Linked DNA regions of Homo sapiens: region 2 is linked to region 1. Evidence: fine-mapped expression QTL. Tissue or cell type: whole blood. Region 1 holds a variant in brackets; the other region holds the start of a gene. All regions are shown on one strand. Distances are between the middles of the regions.

Evidence for each region. PIP is the estimated chance that this variant, and not a neighbour inherited with it, causes the effect.
Region 2: TGS1 starts here. The variant in region 1 is fine-mapped to the expression of TGS1 in whole blood (GTEx, PIP above 0.99).

What each region holds. Positions count from the first base shown.
Region 1 is chr8:55,685,620-55,688,471 of GRCh38, forward strand. No RefSeq gene overlaps it. Among named protein-coding and RNA genes, the nearest start is that of TMEM68, 86 kb to the right of the region's middle. The variant G/A (reference allele first, on the strand shown) is at 1,539.
Region 2 is chr8:55,772,096-55,774,595 of GRCh38, forward strand. TGS1 (trimethylguanosine synthase 1) reads left to right here and starts at 1,351. Exons shown (of 13, transcript NM_024831.8): 1 at 1,351-1,624. The coding sequence starts at 1,524. TMEM68 (transmembrane protein 68) reads right to left here and starts at 1,283. Exons shown (of 8, transcript NM_001286657.2): 1 at 1,174-1,283. RefSeq lists enhancers at 185-688, 1,460-1,789 and silencers at 910-1,039, 1,130-1,319.

The sequences.
Region 1 (2,852 bases):
TTCAACCTCTTTGAGCTTCAAGTTCCTTCTGTGTTTACAGAACACTTAGGGTGAGGATTAAAAGGCATAACACATAAAGCACCTAGCAATGAGCCTAGCATACGTCAGGTGCTTAACGAATGTTAGTTTTCTTCCCCCAGACTCTAAAAAGGGTAGAACCTGCAAGTGGAAATCAGGTGACTTGGGAAATAGAGAGAAGCAGGATACAGGGGCTTGAAATCAGGTTGGGGCAAATAACATTCAAAGGAAATCTCTACTGGCAGGATGAAGGGGCCATACCAACCCTTTTACTAACAGCTTGGAGTGAGCTCAAGAGGACATGTGCATATGAATCTTTAGATGAACCAAAACTTTAAGAAACATCACAATCAAAAGCAAGATGTTAAAATAAATACATAAATTATATTCAAGAAAAGAAATTTCAGCATGTTGGACGGTAAGAGTCAGAGAGATCACTACAGCTTGAAATGATAGGGTGAAAAAGAATATAAAACATAACCCAGAAAAAGTGAAGTGCTTAATATAGGTCCAACAGTTAAGCTGCACATTCTCGCACACATATACACACACACGGAAGTGAATAATAATAGCTGAAATGTACTGAGTACCAAGTGCTTCTCATGAGCCTGGCCCTGCACTTTGTGCTTTGTGCATCATGCAGCTAGATAGCATAAAGCACTAAATCCTTTACATCAGGGGTCCTCAGTCCCCATTCGCTGGCCTGATAGGAACTGGCTGCACAGCAGGAGATAAGCAGCGGGCTCCACCACCTGAGCTCCGCCTCCTGTCAGATCAGCAGCGGCATTAGATTCTCGTAGCAGCTCGAACCCTATCGTGAACTGCGCATGCAAGGGATCGGGGTTGTGTCTCCTTATAAGAATCTAATGCCTGATGATCTGAATGATCTGAGGTGGAACAGTTTTATCCCAAGACCATCCCCCACTCCTCCCACCACAAACAGCCCCCCAGTCTGTGGAAAAACTGTCTTCCACAAAACTGGTCCCTGGTGCCAGAAAGGTTGGGGACTGTTGCTTTACATAGATGACTTCATTAATCCTCTCAGCAAATCTGAAACAGGAACTTTTATTACCCTTGCTTTTCATAGAAGTGACCTGTGGCTTGGAGGGTAAGTCATTCTGCCCAAGGTCACACAACTTGGAGGAGGTGAAGCTAGGAAACTATCTGGGAACCTTGAAATGCAAAGCTCACACACACAATCACCACACCATGCTACCACCATCATGTCAGAGGGAAAGAAAACTAATACATAACAACTAAATGTTATACCATTTGATAGCCACATTAGTCAGGACATGTGTAATTAAAAAAAAAAAAACAACCTTCAATCCAAAAAGGTTTAAACAAGACAGAAATGCATTGGCTCACATAGCTAGAAGTCAGGGTATAAAAAGGCCTAGAGGGTTGACTTATCTCTAGGCCTTATCTAGACTCAGTAGGTTCAAATCCCAATGGCCTTATCTCTATTTCCCTGAAATCTCTCTGCCTGGCCTCCTGTGGTAATGCAAGCTTCATCCCAC[G/A]TTGGGGATGACATGTCCACAGCGGATCCAGGGCTCACATCCACGTGCAATAAATCCAGAGAAAGAAAGGGTCATTTCCAGGAGTTCACCCAGAAAAGGGAGGAAAAGCTTTCCTAGAAGGGTCCAGCCCAGCTCTACTTCCATCTCCTGGGCCAAAATTATTTGTTAATGAGTCAAAGGCACAAGATCGCCTTTTGATCAATCAGGCCACCCTTGGAATTGCAAGTGGAGCCAGCATTTCTTGAGACACACAGGGTTCCTGGAGAAGGGGCAAATACCTGCAAAAAAGTAGGGTTTGTTAGGAAGAAGAAAAGAAAAGAATGACTCTGGGTTAGACAATCAACAATATCTAGTACAATTCTCAGAGAAATGAAATCTCATTCCCCTTTTGCAGGTGACCTACGGGTTTAAAACGGTTCTTGTGAAAAGATCTGAGATTCTTTTTTTTTTTTTTTTGAGATGGCATCTCGCTCTATCCCCCAGACTAGAGTGCACTGGCATGATCTCAGCTCACTGCAACCTTCACCTCTCAGGTTCCAGCGATTCTCCCGCCTCAGCCTCCTGAGTAGCTGGGATTACAGGTGCCCAAAACCACACCTGGCTAATTTTTTGTATTTTTAGTAAAGATGGGGTTTCACCATGTTGGCCAGGCTGGCCTCGAACTCCTGACCTCGTATGATCTGCCCACTTCAGCCTCCCAAAATGCAGGGATTACAGGAGTGAGCCACTGTGCCTGGCCTAAGAGCTGGAATTTTTATCTTGACTATAGACTTCATATGAGCCAATTGTGTCAGGTGATTAGTGCAATCTTGAGTTCATTAAAAAGAACAGCCAGGTCAAGAAAAGACATAGAGTTATTGTATTCAGTACCAGTCCAGTCATATTGGGACTATGGTATCAACTCCAGATACTGCATTTTAAGAGGACTGTCAAACACAGATCATAGAAGAGGTGGAAGTATAACATAGTCATAAGTGGCCAGACACGGTGGCTCACGCCTGTAATCCCGGCACTTTTGGAAGCTGAGGTGGGTGAATCACCTGAGGTCAGGAGTTCGAGACCAGCCTGAACAACATGGAGAAACCCCATCTCTACTAAAAATACAAAGTTAGCCGGGCACGGTGGCACACGCCTGTAGTCCCAGCTACTCAGGAGGCCGAGGTAGGAGAATCGCTTGAACCTGGAAGTCAGAGGTTGTGGTGAGCCGAGATCACGCCATTGCACTCCAGCCTGAACAACAAGAGCCAAATTCCATCTCAAAACAAACAAACAAAAAACACATAGTCATAAGTGTGGGGACTCAGTAGGTTCAAG
Region 2 (2,500 bases), 86 kb after region 1:
TCTGTAACCGTGCAGCACTCTTACCTTCTTGAACCAACAAAATCAGCCTATCTCCGACCTCAAAGTAGGGCAGCAGTAAGGAGGTGGGAATAAACATTTGAAAATGAATATTTCCACTAACTAGTAAATGTGGCCAAAATACTATTGAAAATACCATTCAAAATGCATGAATTTTAGCTCAGTTTTTATATAGTTCTGAAGAAGTACCAATACTATTTTGGCATTTCGTAGCACCAACCACGTCCGAAGCGCTCCAACTTTCAAGTCTGAGCTTGTCTCTGAAGAAGTTGCCCGTGCAGCCTCCATGAATACCACACACCAAATACTAACTGCTTTTTAACAGATCCAGCAACGCTGCTGTTTCCATTTTCTCCATCCTATTTATGCCCACATGAACTTTTTTCTTATTAGATAATTAGTAACTTGAAGGCAGAGACCTGTTTTACAGGCTGCAAACCCCAGGGACCGAGACAGCACTTAACGCCTACAAGGTCCAAACCGACGCCAACGATTAAGCGCACAAAGGAAAGGTGTAATATACATCATTTCGTTTAGTCCTCCCTGCAGCCTCATGTAGTAGTTACTATTAATCAACCCCATTTCACAGGTGATCAAAGGTAAGCTCAGAAAGGTGAAGTTGCCTGCCCAGGTCACAAGGTAGGACCAGGATTCCAAGCCTGATCGGTCTGGATACGAACGCTCTACCCACGCGGCTTTCCCCCTACACTCTCGGGATCACCACACACTTCCCCTTGGCTTTTACACCGGAGGCTCGACCTGGGTCCCGGAACCAGCGAAGCCACTGGGCAAGCCTAGAGGCCTCTACAGAGGCTAGAGACGCCTCGCCCCACCAGATGCATTAGGATGAAACGCGCCGAACCGAAGGTTTAGAGCGCCAGGGGAGAAGAGGGGCGGGGAGAGCAGGCTCTTTGACCCAGAGGAGGGAGGATCTCCACACCCGGCCACTCTGGCGCTGGGGCGCAACACTGAGGCCGGCGGGAAGCCGAGCCTGCCCGCGAAGAGACTGGGGATTCCGAGGCGGCTCCTGGGAGACCGGACGCGCGCGGCCTCCGCCGCTCCCAGTCCCGCCAGACCCGATGCCGGGCTGGAGAAGCGCGGGGGCCGACGCACCTCGGATAGGCGGGGGCAGGGGCAGGGGCAGCTCTCCTTTACCCTAGAGCGGCGACAGAAGCTCTTCGGGGGATCAGTGGCCAAGGGGGCGGACAGATTTGCACGGCGGATTCCTCCGAAGCAACCCGTGTGAAAGAAGCCAAGCGGCGGCTGCAGCCCGGGCCGCGATGGGGGTGACACCGCCCGTGGTCCCGCCCCTTCCCGTGGCCCCTCGGAGCCACTTCCGGCGGCAGCGTCCGGGCTAGTTCCCGGCGCGAGCGGCCGCGGGCCAGTTTCTATCTCCTCATCCAGGGCTTGCGGGCGAGGCCTGTTTTAAGTCTCCAGTAACCGAGCGGAGGCCCGGCAGGCGCGACCCGGGCTGCGTACGTCAGAGCTGCCTCCGAAGTGGTAAAATGTGCTGCGAGAAGTGGAGCCGCGTGGCGGAAATGTTTCTCTTCATTGAGGAGCGGGAGGATTGTAAGATACTGTGCCTTTGCTCCAGGGCATTTGTGGAGTAAGTAGAAAAGAGAATCTCTTCATGTTCTAGCACAGTCATTACCCAGAAATGTAGGTATTGCAAACGTGGTTGTAATTGATCCCTGAAAGCAGCCAGAACATCTGACCCTTGGGCACGGTGATGTTTAAGAAAAACAAAACCCTCAGACATGACGGAGTGGTCGCCCACTGCCATTATTTTTATGTGAAGGACTACATCTACTTGGTAGGCTGCTATGAAAAAATGTCGTAGGTGCTATATGTCATCTCATATTTGTAAATCGAGGGGACATTTAAAAATTGGGGGAAAGCGACATGTAAAATGAAATCTCTAGTAGATATGATGTCATAAAGTGAAAGTTTAAAGTTGAGTGACTTGCTTTGGTTAACGTCTTTTTTTAAACCTAAAAATCTACTTAAGCCCAAATGCACATAATTAAAACTTCAAACTAGTTGAGATAAAAGACTTAACCATATTTACATCAGTTTTTGTGATATCTTTATTTTGGGGAAATCTTTGAATCAGGTAAAAATTGCCCCACATGAAAAATAGCTAGTATGCAGGAATAATACCGCCAAGAGACTTGAATTCTAGGAATTGTTTCCTTTATATTAAATGCGTGAGTTAAACCACTTGAACCTTTTTTTCATCTCTATAACGGGTATATTTAATCTCACATGCTTATTTTGTTAGAGTTAAATCCTTGTGGAAGTGAATTTTATGTGATAGACTTTTAATATAGTTTAATATAGTAGGATTTAAGTTTGAAGGAATTCATTTTTCTCGTGTAATTTTGTGGAGTAATTTGAAAACGCAAAAAGAAGTTAAACTTGTTAAATTTAATGTAAAAAGTATTGTCGCCTTTTTAGTCAGGCATGCATGTAGTCATACAAT